Linked DNA regions of Homo sapiens: region 2 is linked to region 1. The links come from fine-mapping of genetic effects on gene expression. Tissue or cell type: whole blood. Region 1 holds a variant in brackets; the other region holds the start of a gene. All regions are shown on one strand. Distances are from middle to middle.

Region 1 (8,170 bases):
GTCGTTTGATAAAATCAAAGAACAAAGGGAGAGAGAGCGCCAGAGGCAGCGGGAACGGGAGATCCGCGAAACGGAGAGGCGGCGGTGAGTGGAGCTGGGTGAGGCTGTGGGCTGGTGGTTTCCTCTCGGGGTGGCTGTCCTTCTCCCAGCTGTACTTGGAGTGCGCAGTCTGTGTGCCCGAGAGCCAGTGCCTGGGCTGGCGGGTGTCGTGCTTAACCTGGGTCCTCGAGGCAGGGGCCAGCACCTGTTCACACGTGAGCCGCCAGACATGCCAGGTGGCATGAAAGTCATCAAAGGGCCAGGTGCAGTGGCTCACACCTGTAATCCGAGCACTTTGGGATGCCAGGGCCAGAGGATCCCCTGAAGCCAGGAGTTCAAGACCATCCTAGGCAATGTAGCGAGACCCCACCTCTACAAAATATTTAAAAATTAGCTGGGCATGGTGGCGTGCACTTGTAGTCCCAGCTACTCAGGAGGTTGAGGTGGGAGGATTGCTGGAGCCCAGAAGCTCAAGGCTGCAGTGAGCTGTGATCACAACAGTGCACTGCAGACTGGGTGACAGAGTGAGACCCTGTCTCTTAAAAAGAAGTCATCAAAGCCCTTTACAGTATATGGGGTTTGGCTATGTTGCCAGGCTGATAACTGCTGGGCCCAAGCGATCCTCCTGCGTCAGCCTCCCTAAGTGCTGGATTACAGGCTGAGCCTTCTGCTGGCTCAAAGTCTATTTTCGCCCCTCCTCTGATGTTGGACCTTGGCCCGTGTGGAAGGCCCAGCCGTGTGTGGCTTTGATGGGATGGGATGGTGCCTGGGTGCTGAGGCCTGTCTTCCCTGTTGAAACCTTTCACCTAAGGTCAGAAACTGCAAGCAGAGTCCAGTTGTCATTTTGCCGCGGCTCCCTTCTGGGCTGTGGTCTTGAAGGAGGCTTGTCCCTCTGCCTTGACATTCGGCCTTTTCATGTCGGGATGCCCGGCGTTCTCTTGTCACTTTTCCTCAAATATTGCTCAGTAAAGCAAAAGCTGTGCTCACAGCATTTGGAAAATGTTCTCGAGCAAACCTAGAAATGTTGCCAGCTGTGCTGCCTTTGCTTTTCTTAAGGTAGCTTTGTTAAGTAAGGTAACCCCCTGCACGCGCAGCTTTAGGGAAGCCCGGTGAGCTTTTGGATCCATTTTTTTTTTCTGCTTCCAATACACACCCAGTTTTGGGCACCGGGCTTTCTCCTTGGAGGCTCACGCAGGGAGTTCAGGGCAGCCTCACCTGTCCCCGCAGGGAGCGCGAGCAGCGGGAGCGGGAGCAACGCCTCGAGGCCTTCCATGAGCGGAAGGAGAAGGCCCGGCTACAGCGGGAACGCCTGCAGCTCGAGTGCCAGCGCCAGCGGCTGGAGCGGGAGCGCATGGAGCGGGAGCGGCTGGAGCGCGAGCGCATGCGCGTGGAGCGTGAGCGCAGGAAGGAGCAGGAGCGCATCCACCGCGAGCGCGAGGAGCTGCGGCGCCAGCAGGAGCAGCTGCGTTACGAGCAGGAGCGGCGGCCCGGGCGGAGGCCCTACGACCTGGACCGGTGAGTCCCGCCCAGAGCGTGGGCAGGACGGAGACCAGCGTGGCAGCGGTGTTCACCCTTCCAGCAGAACAGCGGCTTCCCTTCCGTCCCTGTCGGTGGGGAGAATGAAATTTGATATGGAGCATGCGCCTTGGGGACCCCCCGCCGATCTCACTGCGCTGCTGCAGGTTTATTAGTTCGCTGTCCTCACCGGAGGCTGTGTAGCATCTTCCTGAACTTGAGTTATTCTGGGAAACTTGATGGCTGCCACTTGCTGAAGGGTTTGTGATGCTTTTCCTCTCCACTTACCCGTGGAGCATAGCTGTTCTCTGTCTTGCGAGACAACCGAACGCCCGTTAGGCCCAAGTTGGCCACCGCTGACTCTGCCGGTCTCATGTGTCCTTGTAGACAGAGAGGCAGAGCAGGCGCTGTGGAAAAGGAAATTGCCTCTGATTTAGAAAGTAGGTTTATTGGTCTCTAGCTACCCCAGGCGGCTTAATTGACAGTCACCCTTCACCCCGCTCTCCGTGAGCCTAGTTTTCTGGTAAAAATCAGGAAGAAGATAATTGGATGCCGTCCAGAGCTGTGTGTAGTTCACTATCACCCCATCTAATTCTCTTTGCTTTTGCAAGAAACTCAGAGGGAGATTCAGGCTCCCGTGGAAGGCAGGGAAAGTAAAAGTGTGGCAACTCGAATGCTATTCCAGAAGAATCAAATATTTCTTTTCAGTTGCTCATGAGGGGGGATCAAGGTAATAACAGCCTCACGAGACAATGAGCTCACAGCAGTGCTCCTTTTGGGACTGTTGGATGAGAACACAAGTGTGCCTCTCGGCTGTTAATGGCGGTTTTAATTTATCAGATCAAAGCAATGATGATCGAATGTTTAGAGATTAGCCCTGCAGGACATTTTAAACGATACTGGGTCTGGGGAGAGAGCTCCCCTCCCCACCTCCACCTCCTCCTTTTTTCCTCCTCCTCTCTCATTAATGGAATTTGTATTCTTTTAAAATAAAAACCAACAGACGAGATGATGCCTATTGGCCAGAAGGAAAGCGTGTGGCAATGGAGGACCGATATCGTGCAGACTTTCCCCGGCCAGACCACCGCTTTCACGACTTCGATCATCGAGACCGGGGCCAGTACCAGGACCACGCCATCGACAGGTCAGTGGTCTTGTCCCCTCCTTTAGCTACAGTCATTGTGGGCACCGGGGCATCCAGCTGACCTCGTTCTCAGCCCAGTGCAGGGGTTCCTGTGTGCTCTGAAGCCTCGTTTACTTCTGAGATCCACAGTGGATGACTCTGGCCTTGCACAGAACTTGAGCGAGTTGCTGGAATCCCCAGCTTACCTCAGAGGAAGGCATCTCAGAGCTCATTCCATCCACCGACTCTTTTCATAGGTGGGCCAGGAGGGGCCTGAGTGCAGGCCATCTACACTGAGCTCTCTTGTGAGGCAGCAGTGTTTGTCAGCACAACCTGGTTGTGCCCAAGAGCTACCAGAGAATTGATGGAGGACGTGCAAAATTTCTCATGAGGCCTGTTTTGTATTTCGAGGGTCTGGGTGGGTTTTTTAGCCTTTTAAAATGAGGAATACATCTAGTTTATTAAAAAGGCAGCCCTTGGTTTTCCAGTGTAAGAATCCTGTCTTTGGGCTCCCCTCGGCTGCACATCTCTGACCCATTTCCCCATTCATTGGCTCCTTCAGTCGGAATGTCAGAGCGGGGAGAACAGGAAAGGGAGGCTGAGAGGCCACACTCTTAATTCTGCTGGAGTTTGGGGTGGAGTTGGTGTGAATTTTGATGAGTCCCACGCATTGGGTCAGACCAAAGATGAGGGATCATTGGAGGCCTCTGTTTGTCCCTGTTCCCCTAACTGAGAGCTCCCCGAGGAATTTTAGTTCAGTGAGATCTTTATTCCTACCTCTTTAGGATCCAACTTCGTTTCTGCCCCCGGGGAAAAGCCTTTCGATTTGAGCTAGCTTTTTCCTTTTTTCCCAGGCCAGTTATAGTTTTTATGTGATGGGATGGAAAAAGTATCCCAGTCGCGAAACTTGCCTGACCTGCAGAAATGTGTAGTCGTGCCTGGTGCTGTTTGAACGGGATCTTTTCCTTTTGCAGGCGGGAGGGTTCGAGGCCAATGATGGGAGACCACCGGGATGGGCAGGTGAGTAGAGCCCCGATGCCAAG[C/T]CCTGGGGCCACTGTACTGCTGTGCAGGCATAGCGGACCATTTCTAGCCAGGCGGCCGCTTGATCCCAGAGAGGTGGCAACCAAGTCAGCACGTGTGGCGGGTATGCAAGTGTGGGTTCTGGCCAGCGACTAGAAGTACAAATATTTAGTCGGACGTGGTGGCTCATGCCTGTAATCCCAGCACTTTGGGAAGCTGAGGTGGGTGGATCACAAGGTCAGGAGTTCAAGACCAGCCTGGCCGACATGGTGAAACCCTGTCTCTACTAAAAATACAAAAAATTAGCCAGGCATGGTGGCGAGTGCCTGTAGTCCCAGCTACTCGGGAGGCTGAGGCAGGAGAATCGCTTGAACCCGGGAGGCGGAGGTTGCAGTGAGTCGAGGTCGCACCATTGCACTCCAGCCTGGGCAACAAGAGCAAGACTCCGTCTCAAAAAAAAAAAAAAAAAAAAAAAGCGCAAATATTTGATTGTTTTGTAATGCTCAAGTTTCTGTCATTTTCAAATATGTTGGGCTTGTTCTTCATTGTATCCGGTAGAAACCTCATGTGTCTCTTCATTGTCCACTTGCTCAGGGAGCCTTTGGGTCTTAGTGCCTGTGGGGTCCCCCAAGAACCCAAATGGTGGTTGTCGTTTAGCCCACATGTGCCAGGGTCGGGGGGATGGGGGAGCCCGGGCTTCCCCATGTTTCAAGTCCGTGCTTGGTGGGCACGGGGGGCTGAAGACCACAAGAATGGTCCCTGAGTCTCTGTGGTGCCATGCGGGTGCCCCGTGCGTGGTGGCAGGGTGTGAGTTCTGAGAAAGCAGCAGCCTGGTGGAGAGGTGGGAGGTGGGCGGCAGAGTAATGGCCTGTAACAGCAGGCAGCACCCGCCTGCTTCCTGGCTGCTGGCTGCTCCGTGCAGAGTTGGTTGGCCAGGGAGGCCGGAATTGTGGCCCTGCCAGAGCACAGGGGGGCTGACCCACCCGAGGGCCCTCCTGTTATCGGAAAGGAGGCGGCGCCCAACTTCTCAGGGAAGACAGGGTTTGGTGACGTCTTAGTGGATCTTGAGCAGAGCTGTTGAGGGCAGTAATGCCAGGGTGCCCTGGCTCCTGGGGCAGCTCAGGTGGGGCAGTGATGCAGCTGTAGGGGTGCGAGGAGGGGAGCCAGGGAGCAGAGGGTCAGTGAAGCAGGGCCCAGCAGGGCTGAGACTGCACCCTTCAGTCCTCTCTCAGCTCCGCCCCACCTGCCACCCTGGGGCCTGCAGTGGACAGGCCTTCCGGAAGGTGGGCCTATGTGGGTGACATGGTCAGTGTCACCCTGTTCCTCTCCTGCCTTCCAGCACTATGGAGATGACCGCCATGGCCACGGAGGACCCCCAGAGCGCCACGGCCGGGACTCCCGTGATGGCTGGGGGGGCTACGGCTCCGACAAGAGGCTGAGTGAAGGCCGGGGGCTGCCCCCTCCCCCCAGGTTAGTGGGTGAGCCCCAGCCGGGTGGGGAGCATCTGTCCTAACCTGGGAAAAGGTTGGTGCCTGGCCAGGCACGTCCCCAAGGTTTGATTCAGCTAGGGGAGCTTTAGGATGGGCTACCAGGGGTCCTGCCATTTGAAACCCCTGACTCAGAAAGTCCAGGTTCTCAAGAAGAAAGCATAGAACAGGCTTTCAGGGATGGAGCTGTCCAGGTCGCCCAGAATGGCCCATCCCCATTCTTGAGCTGGGGGTCGCCTGCAGTTGTGAATGTCTCGATCATGGGCTGCGTACACACTGGGAGAGACAGCGCTGAAGCTCTTAGTCCTGCCCCGTCCGTGGTAGAGCAGCCTCGCCCCTGCCTCCACGTTGCCTCTTGACACGTGTCTTCCTCGGGTTTTTTCTCTGACCCCCAGTTGGTCTGGGGTGGATCTTCTCAACCCTATCCTGCCTATTAGAATCACTTAGGAGGACCCTCCACCCAGGACTCAGGGCTGAGGACACTGGGCCAGGTCCTCCACAGGTGTCCAAAGCCACCTTCACCAGCACTGCAGTGGGGGTGCTGTTCTGAGCCTTGTCAGCATTGGTGGGGGGCAGGGCTTGTCTGGGAGGACTCTGGGTGCCTCTCTAGTTTCTTTGGCCAGCTGCAGTCACCCCTGCCTGTTTGTCCTGTTGCCGTCTGGGCTGGCCGTGAGGAGGCTGGTGGCAGGACTGCTTTGCGGCTGCTGCCCTGCTTTCCTCTGTGAGCCGAGTGTCCTGTCTTGTCTCCAGCCCTGGCCCAGGGCTGCCTCGGACCCTGCCCAGCGCCACAGGGTGGGTTTTGGCCCCCTGTGCTCCCCCGTTCCATCCCTCCCTCCGCGCTGAGAGGCACTTCCAGCTCTGCCAGGGACTTTGACTCGGTGCTGTGCCGAGTGTCCCAGGACACCCGAAGCTTCTCCTGAATCTCTGGGCAGCACAGACGGTGGCAGTGCTCTGATCAGTTGGTGTGAAGTGTTCTCTCCTGTGAGACTTCATTAGCATTCCTGTCCTGTCGCTTGCTGGGTGTTATGGTAAATACCTCGGGAGTGTAAACGGGAAACTCACCCATGGTGAGCAGCGGCTGGGCGCCATCGGGTCACCGAGGGCAGGTTCCACACGGGAGCTTTCCGCTCCCTCCAGGGCGGTATTGCACTTGCCTGGCAGTGCGCGCTGGGGGCTCTGGTGGCCCCTCTCGGGCCTGTGGGCTGGCTCACTTGGCCTGACTGTCACTGCATCCGGCAACCCACAGCAGGCAGGCACTCGTGCAGATGGGTCTGGCTGCTTTCCTGCACGGCCACTGTGACTGCTTGGCCACTTGGGACTCAGGACACTGGACTCGGATTTTCATCTCCCAGAGTTTGTCTGAAACTTTAAACAAATAGCTTTCTTTAAGTATAGTTCACACGACACACACTTCCCGTTTCACGTGTGCAGTCAGTGGAGGTTTGCGTGTACGTGGATCTGTTTAGCCATCCCCACGGCTGATTCTGAAGCATTTTCATCACGTCAAAAGAAACCCTGCCCCTTTTAGCAGCTGCACCCTCCCCCCTGCCCTTGGTAGCCACAGGTCCCTTTCTGGCTCTGGATTTGCCGTCTTGAGTCATTTCTTGGCCTGCGCGGTGTGCCTGCTGGGCCTGGCTTCTCCCTAAGCCTTGGGTATTCAGGGCTCATCTCCACATGCTGCCTGGGCCAGCGCTTCCTTCCTAGTTAGGGCTGAACATTCCATGGTCCAGACACACTACATAGTGTTATCTGCTCATCAGTTCATGGGTGTTGGGGTCCTTCTCCCTTTGGCTGTTAGGAATCCTGCCGCTAGGAACATTCATGCACAGATGTCTTTGGCCATGTTTTCATTTCTGGCAGGTAGGAATGGGTTTGCTGGGTCATGGTAATTCTGCGCTTAACTTTTTGAAGAACCACCAAACTTTTCCACAGTGGCCACACCATTTTACATTTCCACCAGCAGTGGACAAGGGTTCTTCCCTTTCCTCGCACCCTCCACGGTGTGTGTTATTGTGTGATTCTAGCATCCCAGCCAGGGGGAGGTAGCATCTCGGTGTGGCTCGGATTGGCATTTCTGGGTGGCGTTGAGCACCTTCTCACGTGCTTACTAGCACATCTGTCTTTGGGGAAATGTCCCTTCCCTTGATTTGCCCACTTGACATGCAGCCCTTGTTGTGTGGCATGACCCACCATGCAGCTGAGGTCAGGGTGGGTGCGCCTGCTGCCGACACAACCCTGGAGGCTCATTAGATGGCTGCATGTCTTTTTCTTTTGGCAAAGGGGTGGCCGTGACTGGGGAGAGCACAACCAGCGGCTAGAGGAGCACCAGGCACGCGCCTGGCAGGGTGCCATGGACGCAGGCGCGGCTAGCCGGGAGCACGCCAGGTGGCAAGGTACGGGGCTGGCTCCAGGGACGAGGGTGGCTGTGGCCCCCACATGTGTCCAGGGGCTTCCCCAGGAACGGAGTGTTTGCAGACCCTTCTTCTCTTCTAGGTGGCGAGAGGGGCCTGTCTGGGCCCTCGGGGCCGGGGCACATGGCAAGCCGCGGTGGAGTGGCGGGGTAAGGTGTGTCGTCCGTGGAGGACGGTGGTTCACTCCTGCTCCTCACTTCCTCTCCCTTTTTTGCATGTTTGATCAGCTGGCTGGGTTGGATGTTATGAAAACAAAGCAAAAAGCAGCTCTTTGCAATTTATGCAAATAACGCTCTTGAGTTACCTGGAATACAATGTGCGATGATGATTTTTCTCACCTGGAAAAAAAACCCAAGCGCTCTAAAGGCTGCGGGACCGTTACTGAACCCATGTTACGATGAAAACGCTGAGCACTTCAAGGGGAAAAAAATTGTCTGACTTTGTTCCTAGGCGAGGCGGCTTTGCACAAGGTGGACATTCCCAGGGCCACGTGGTGCCAGGTGGCGGACTGGAAGGTGGCGGAGTGGCCAGCCAGGACCGGGGCAGCAGAGTCCCTCACCCACACCCTCATCCCC
Region 2 (8,170 bases), 23 kb after region 1:
ACTTTTTCATCTTTACCAGCCAGACAGATGAAAAGAAGAAAAAGATATTTCATGGTAGTTTTTTTTTATATTTAGGTTACCATGAGCGAGAATGAACTCCCTTGCCTATGCCCAGAAGACGTTTGTATTTCCTTTTCAGAAAACCGTTCATGTGTGGTGGCTTATGCTTGTAATCCCAGCACTTTGGGAGGCTGAGGTGGGAGGATTGCTTGAATCCCAGGAGTTCGAGACCAGCCTGGGCAACATGGCGAAACCCTGTCTCTACTAAAAATACTGAAAATTAGCCGGGAGGGGTGGTACACAGTTTCAGTGAGCCAAGATTGTGTCACTGCATTCCAGTGTGGGAAACAGCAAGACCCTGTTTGCTCAAAAACAAAAACAAAACAACAACAACAAAAATCCATTCATGTCTTTCACCCTTTTTTGGACTGGCTTGTTAATCCATATTGATTTCTAGATGCTTTTTACATATTAAGGATATCAGTCTCTTGTCTATCATGTTTTGGAAGATTTTCCCCCTTGATGTTGCCTCTTCATCTTCTAGTATTTTTTATTTGTTTGTTTTGTTTTTCTTTTTTCTTTTTTTTTTTGAGATGGAGTTTCCCTCTTGTTGCCCAGGCTGGAGTGCAATGGTGCGATGTTGGCTCACCGCAACCACTGCCTCCTGGGTTCAAATGATTCTCCTGCCTCAGCCTCCCAAGTAGCTGGCATTACAGGCATGCACCACCACACCCAGCTAATTTTGAATTTTTAGTAGAGACAGGGTTTCTCCATGTTGGCCAGGCTGGTCTCGAACTCCCTACCTCAGGGGATCCGCCTGCCTCAGCCTCCCAAAGTGCTGGGATTACAGGCGTGAGCCACCGTGCCCGGCCTGTTTTGTTTTTCTTAAGACAGTCTCTCACTCTGTCACCCAGGCTGGAGTGCAGTGGTGCAATCTTGGCTCACTGCAACTGTGTACTCCACAGTTGCCATTGTACTCCACCCTGGGCATTGTACTTCAACCTCCTGGGTTGAAGCCATTCTCCTGCCTCAGCCTCCCAAGTAGCTGGAATTATAGGCACCCACCACCACACCTGGCTAATTTTTGTATTTTTAGTAGAGACAGGGTTTCACCATGTTGGCCAGGCTGGTCTCGATCTCCTGACCCCAGGTGATCCACCCACCTTGGCCTCCCAAAGTGCTGAGATTACAGGAGTGAGCCACTGTGCCCAGTCTCTCACCCCTTTTTCAATTTGCTTGTTAATCCTTATTGATTTCCAGATGCTCTTTACATATTAAGAAAATCAGTCTTTTGTCTGTCGTGTTTTGGAAAACTTTCTTCCTTGATGTTGCCTTTTGATCTTCTAGTATTTTTTTAATGTGCATATGTGTGTAGGAATTTTATATTTGTAGTCAGTTATTAATCTTTTAATTAAAGGTTTCTGGGTTTAATATGCTTTAACACAGTTAAGATTAATTTTATTTTTATATTTTTTTGAGACGGAGTATCACTCTGTCACACAGGCTGGAGTGCAATGGTGTGGTCTCGGCTCACTGCCAGCTCCACCTCCCGGGTTCAAGTGATTCTCCCGCCTCAGCCTCTTGAGTAGCTGGGATTACAGGCATGCACCACCACACCTGGCTAATTTTTGTATTTTTAGTAGAGACGGGGTTTCACCATGTTGGCCAGGCTGGTCTCGAACTCCTGACCTCTTGATTTGCCCGCCTCAGCCTCCCAAAGTGCTGGGATTACAGGCATGAGCCACCGCGCCTGGCCCAGATTATTTTTATTTTTAACTCCTGTGTTTTCTCCTAATATTTGTATAGTTTATTTCGCTGGGGGCAAGGGTTGAAGGGGCCATCTGGAATTTAATTTGGTTTGAGTTATCTTTAAAATCTCCATCTGAAAAAAAAAAAAAAAAGGCTGGACGTGGTGGCTCACGCCTGTAATCCCAGCAATTTGGGAGGCCAAGGCAGGCAGATCACTTGAGGTCAGGAGTTTGAGACCACCCTGGCTAACATGGTGAAACCCTGTCTCTACTAAAAATACAAAAATTAGCCTGGCGTGGTGGCGCACGCCTGTAATTCCAGCTACTCAGGAGGCTGAGGCGGGAGAATCGCTTGAACCCAGGAGGCGGAGGCTGCAGTGAGCCGAGATATTGCCACTGCACTCCAGCCTGAGTGACAGAGTGAGACTCCATCTCAAAAATAGTAATAATAATAATAAAAACTAGAAACCTCCATCTGAACTCTCATGGTTGTGTAAGAGTGATGTTTGTGGGCTGGGCGAGGTGGCTCCCACCTGTAATCCCAGCACTTTGGGATGCCAAGGCGGGTGGATCACCTGAGATCGGGAGTTCAAGACCAGCCTGACTAACATGGAGAAACCCCGTCTCTACTAAAAATACAAAAAATTAGCCAGGCTTGGTGGCGCATGCCTGTAATCCCAGCTACTCGGGAAGGCTGAGGCAGGAGAATTGCTTGCACCTGGGAGGCGGAGGTTGCGGTGAGCCGAGATTGTGCCATTGTACTCCACCCTGGGCAACAAGAGTGAAACTCTGTCTCAAAAAAAAAAAAAAAAAAAAAAGTGATGTTTGTGTAATGAATGGATTACAACAAAACTGCTAATGCTAGGTGGCCTGGGTTCGAATCCCAGCTCTGCCACTTTTCTCTCTGTTTCCTCTGGGAAATCTCTTTTCTTCTCTATGCCTCAGTTTTCTCACTTGTAAAATGGGAAGTCATAGTGTCATGAGAAAAGTAAGAGATGCTTCCCCCACCCCAATAAAGTACCTAGAAGACTGTCTGTCACTTAGCAGGTGCTCTTTTCTTTTCTTTTCTTTTTTGAGACGGAGTTTCCCTCTTGTTGCCCAGGCTAGAGTGCAATGGCAGATCTCCGCTCACCACAACCTCCACCTCCTGGGTTCAAGCGATTCTCCTGGCTCAGCCTCCTGAGTAGTTGGGATTACAGGCACCCACCACCACGCCTGGCTAATTTTTTTGTATTTTTTGTAGAGACGGGGTTTCTCTGTGTTGGTCAGGTAGATCTCGATCTCCCAACCTCAGGTGATCTGCCCACCTCGGCCTCCCAAAGTGTTGGGATTACAGGCGTTAGCCCCTGCACCCAGCCCTTCTCTTTTTTTCCTTCTCTTCCTCTCTCTCTCTCTTTCTTTCTTTCATTCTTTCTTTCCTCTTCTCTTTCTCTCTCTCTCCCTCTTTCTTTCTTTCTTTCTTTCTTTTTTTTTTTTTTTTTTGAGACGGAGTCTCGCTGTGTCTCCCAGGCTGGAATGCAGTGGCGCACGATCTCGGCTCACTGCAAGCTCCGCCTCCCAGGTTCACGCCATTCTCTTGCCTCAGCCTCCGGAGTAGCTGGGACTACAGGCGCCCGCCACCACGCCCGGCTAATTTTTTGTATTTTTGGTAGAGACGGGGGGGTTTCACCGCGTTAGCCAGGATGGTCTCGATCTCCTGACCTTGTGATCTGCCCACCTGGGCCTCCCAAAGTACTGGGATTACAGGCGTGAGCCACCACACCCGGCCATTTTTTTTTTTTTTTTTTTTTTTTTTTTTTTTGCGATAAGTCTCGCTCTGTGGCTCAGGCTGGAGTGCAGTGGCACAATCTCGGCTCACTGCAACCTCTGTCTGCGGGTTCAAGCGATTCTTCTGCCTCAGCCTCCTGAGTAGCTGGAACTACAGGCATGTGCCACCACGCCTGGCTAATTTTTGTACTTATAGTAGAGACGGGGTTTCACCATGTTGGCCAGGTTGGTCTCGAACTCCTGACCTCATGTGATCCGCCCACCTCAGTCTCCCAAAGTGCTGGGATTCCAGGCATGAGCCACCGCACCTGGCCTAAAAGTAAATTTTTTTTTTAATGTAGGCTGAGCGTGGTGGCTGAGGGTTATAATCCCACCGCTTTGGGAGGCCAAGGCGGAGAATCACTTGACGTCAGGAGTTCAAAACCAGCCTGGGCAACACGGCCAGGCCCCATCTCTACAAAAACTACAAAAGTGAGCTGGGCTTGGTGGCAGCGCCTGTAGTCCCAGCTACTTGAGAGGCTGAGGCGGGAGGATCGCTTGAGCCCGGGAGGTCAAGGCTGCAACGAACCATGATTGCGCCACTGCGCTCCAGCCTGTCCTTAAAAAGATCAAATAAAGTGGCCTCCCAGCCTCCCTCCCTGGAGCCTCCACCATGTAACCCCCTGGACATTCGCGCGTCTCCTTGGCTGGGATGACCTCGCTGATGGCTCTGTGCTGAGTGGCCACTCCGCCTCTAGACCCCCGGGCGCACTCTGGGGCCAGCAGTGGGGAGCGGACGCCTGAGGGGACCGTGGCACCCGCCCCGCCCCGCCGGGCCGGGCCTGCCCACTGCGTGCCGGGCGTGTCCGGGCGGGCGGAGCGCGGGCGCGGCGGGGGCGGGCGGCCAGGCTAGTCGGGCGGGTGCGCGGGGCGCTCGGGGCCCGGGGCCAGAGCTGGAGCCGGAGCCGGGCGGGCGCCATGGAGGGGCTGCGGCGGGGGCTGTCGCGCTGGAAGCGCTACCACATCAAGGTGCACCTGGCGGACGAGGCGCTGCTGCTACCGCTGACCGTGCGGCCGCGGGACACGCTCAGCGACCTGCGCGCCCAGCTGGTGGGCCAGGGCGTGAGCTCCTGGAAGCGCGCCTTCTACTACAACGCGCGGCGGCTGGACGACCACCAGACGGTGCGCGACGCGCGCCTGCAGGACGGCTCGGTGCTGCTGCTCGTCAGCGACCCCAGGTGGCCGCGGGGCTCGGGGTGGGGTGGGGCGGGGGCGGCGGCCGGGGACCCCTGGAGAGCGGCGGGGGAGGCGGGCGCCCAAGGCGGCCTCCCGGGCCGGCACTGCTTTCCCACCTCGCGCTGCCCGCCCGGCCTCTCTCCTGACCCGGCCTTGCCGGTGTCAGGTCTTGCTTTCGGGCTCTCTGTCTGTGCCTGTTTCTCTGCCTGTTTCTGTCTCTGCTGTTTTTCTGCCTCTCTCTCTTTTGTCTCTGTCACTCTCATCTTTGTCACTCTCTCGTCTCTGTCTCTCATCTCTGTCTCTTCTTCTTTTGTCTCTGTCTCTCATCTCTCTCCCTCTTCTTTCTGTCTCTTGTCTCTGACTCTTATCTCTGTGCCTCTCTTTGTCTCTTTCATCTCTCTCTTTTGTCTGTGTCTCTCTTTTATCTCTGTCTCTTTCATCTTTGTCTCTCTCATCTCTTTTGTGGCTGTCTCATCTCCATCTCTTATCTCTGTCTCCCTCTTGTTTCTGTCTCTTGTCTCTGTCTCTTTTATCTCTGCGTCTCTCATCTTTGTCTCCTCACCTCTCTCTCTTTTGTCTTTGTCTCTGTCTCTCTCTCCATTTTGGTCTCTGTTTTTTCCTCTCTGTGTGTCTCTCTCCATCTCTGCCTCTGTTTATTTCTTTCCCTGATGATTTGGTTGCCTGTGATTGTCTCTGTCTCTGTCTCTCTTTTCTCTGTCACTCTGTGTCTCTGCCCACTTCTCTCTCTGCTGTTTTCCTCCCTGTTTCTCCCTCATCTCTGTCTCCCTCTCTCTTTTCTGTCTCCCTCTCTGGTCTCTGTCTCCCCATTTTGGTCTCTGCTTTTTTCCTCTGTGTGTGTGTCTCTGTCTCTCTTCCCCTTTGTCTCTTTGTGTCTCTGCCCATTTCTGTCTCTGCTGTTTTTCTCCTTGTGTCTCTCTGTGTCTGTCTCTTTTGTCTCTTTGTCCATTTTTGTCTCTGTTTTTCTCTGTGTCTGTGTATGTGTGTGTCTCTCTCTCCCTGTCTCTCTGTCTCTTTGTCCATTTGTCTCTGTCTCTGCTGTTTTTCTCTCTGTCTCTCTGTGTCTCTGTCTCTGTGTCCCTGTCCAGTTCTGTCTGTGTGTGCGCGCATCTCTCTCTGTGTCTCTGTGAGTCTCTGTCTCTTTTGTCTCTGTCTCTCTCTGTGTCTCTGCCCATTTTGGTCTCTGCTTTCTTTCCTCTGTGTGTCTCTCCATTTCTGTCTCTCTTTCTCTGTCTCTCTCCATTTCTGTCTCTGCTCTTTTTCTCTCTGTGTGTCTCTTTTGTCTCTCTGTTTCTCTGCGTGTCTCTGTCCATTTCTGTCTCTTCCCGCTGTGTATTTCTCTCTCTGTGTCTCTGTCTCTGTTATTTTGGTCTCTGCTCTTTTTCTCGCTGTGTCTCAACATGTGTGTCTGTGTCTCTTTATCTCTCTGGTGTCTCTGCATTTTTCTCTGCTGTTTTTCTCTGTCTCTGAAGCTCTGTCTCTCTCTTCCTTCTCTGGTCTCTCCCTACCGCCTTATCTTTCCCACAGCCCCACTCCAGTGTCCGTTACCCACACTCACACTTGGATATCTGGGTCCCCAAAGAGGTCCCCTGGCCAAGACGACCCTCAAGTGGGGCGTCTTCTGGCCCAAGGAGGGGTCTGCAGAGAAGGGCGCTGGGGCCACGGGAACAGCTCACTGCCGGCCTGGGGCAGCTCTGGGAAATGGGTCGAGGATGGCCGAGAGGTGGTGAAGATGGTGGGGCCTCGTCTCAGAGCCTGGGACCACCTCCTTGGAAGCATTGAACAGGAGAGGGACGGGGGCCATGTGAATTACCCTGGATTTTATGGGGGTCACATTCACCAGCCCTCTAGAGGCTTGAGTCACCGAGCCTGGGTTGATGTTTTGAGGGCAGGAGCCTCAGATGCCACCCCGTTGCAGGAGTCTGGGGCTGCAATGGGGGCAGGAGAGGCCCCCTCCCCAGGCCCTCTTGAGGGAAGATCTTAGCGGGGACGGGGAGGCTGAGAGGATGATGAGGGATGGAGGTTCAGAGCTTGGGGCTAGGAGAGGGTGTTCTCGGCAGCGTACCTTCTATGAGGTCTGGGGGCTGGACGACCCTCAGACGTCCAGACTGTAATTATGCAGTACAGAGTCAGCATTTATTGTGTGCCTACTGTGTGCCAGACTCCATGCTGGACACTGAAATTCAGCAGTGACCCAGAGAGACCAGATTTCGCCTTCACAGAGCCTAGAGCCAAATAATAGCACAGGAGAATGTCAACTCGCAATTGGCGCTGTGGGGGATGCAGGGAAGGTGGAGAGGGATCAGTGACTGGGGGACGCCTCTCCGGAAAGGTGACATGTCAGGCTATGATGTGGAGGAGGTGGTTAAACAGAGAGTCAGGGAAGGGTGTTCCAGGCAGTAGGAACAGCCTGTGCAAAGGCCCTGAGGCAGGACTGCACCTGGCATGTTGGAGGAACAGCGAGGAGGCCCGTGTGGCTGGAGCAAGGGGGAGAGAGGGAGGAAGGGAGGGCAGGGAGGGGCCAGGGCAGTTCATGCAGGGCCTTGCGGACTGCAGGGAGGACTTGGGCCTTGACTCCGAGGGAGGTGGGAGCCATAGAGGGCTGTGGGCAGAGGAGGGACGGGACCTGACTCAATGCTCACAGGCAACCCCTGGCTGCAGCGGGGAGAACAGACTGTGATGGGGGGAGGGCTGGAGACAGGAGACCAGGGTGAGGTCCCAGTGAGCCATGCTGGAGGCAGAGAACAGAAGCCTTCAGAGGAGACAGTTTTGGCTGGGCGCAATGGTTCACACCTGCAATCCCAGCACTTTGGGGGGCCAAGGTGGGCGGATCACCTGAAGTCAAGAGTTCGAGACCAGCCTGGCCAACATGGCGAAACGCTGTCTCTACTAAAAATACAAACATTAGCCAGGCATAGTGATATACGCCTGTAATCCCAGCTACTTGGGAGGCTGAGGCAGGAGAATCGCTTGAACCTGGAGGCGGAGGTTGCAGTGAGCTGAGATCGTGCCTCTGCACTCCAGCCTGGACAACAGAGTGAGACTCCGTCTCAAAACAAAAGAAAAAAGAGAGAGTTTCAACCTCCTCTGGGCTCCCACCCTGTCCTAATGCCCTGCCCCTTGCCCATCCCTGACCACACACACAGCTGGGGTTGATGGCAGAGTCCAGCTTTGTCTTCCCCAACAGACAGGGGCCCCTATCTGCCTTTGCTGTTCACTGGCTGTGTGTCCCGAGGCAGCTAACCCACCCTCTCTGGGCATCAAATGGGTTCTGAGCTCCCCAGACCACTCCCAGACCTCTAGAGGCAGAGCAGGGGCTACTAGTGGATGGTGCAGCAGCAGCCGGGGAGGCCTCAGCTTCCCCATGTGAGAAATGAGAAAAACACTTGGGACCTGTCAGCGCAGACGGTACCCTAGGGAGA

What was found. PIP is the estimated chance that this variant, and not a neighbour inherited with it, causes the effect.
Region 2: it holds the start of TINCR, and the variant in region 1 is fine-mapped to the expression of TINCR in whole blood (TOPMed, PIP above 0.99). The same link has a PIP of 0.9 or more in cerebellar hemisphere.

The regions. Positions count from the first base shown.
Region 1 is chr19:5,587,275-5,595,444 of GRCh38, reverse strand. It overlaps SAFB2 (scaffold attachment factor B2), which reads left to right. Exons shown (of 21, transcript NM_014649.3): 14 at 1-84; 15 at 1,267-1,554; 16 at 2,558-2,698; 17 at 3,652-3,697; 18 at 5,037-5,167; 19 at 7,465-7,577; 20 at 7,678-7,744; 21 at 8,046-8,170. Among named protein-coding and RNA genes, the nearest start is that of TINCR, 23 kb to the right of the region's middle. RefSeq lists an enhancer at 5,667-6,289. The variant C/T (reference allele first, on the strand shown) is at 3,721.
Region 2 is chr19:5,564,227-5,572,396 of GRCh38, reverse strand. It overlaps TINCR (TINCR ubiquitin domain containing), which reads left to right and starts at 4,444. Exons shown (of 3, transcript NM_001396408.1): 1 at 4,444-4,732. The coding sequence starts at 4,473.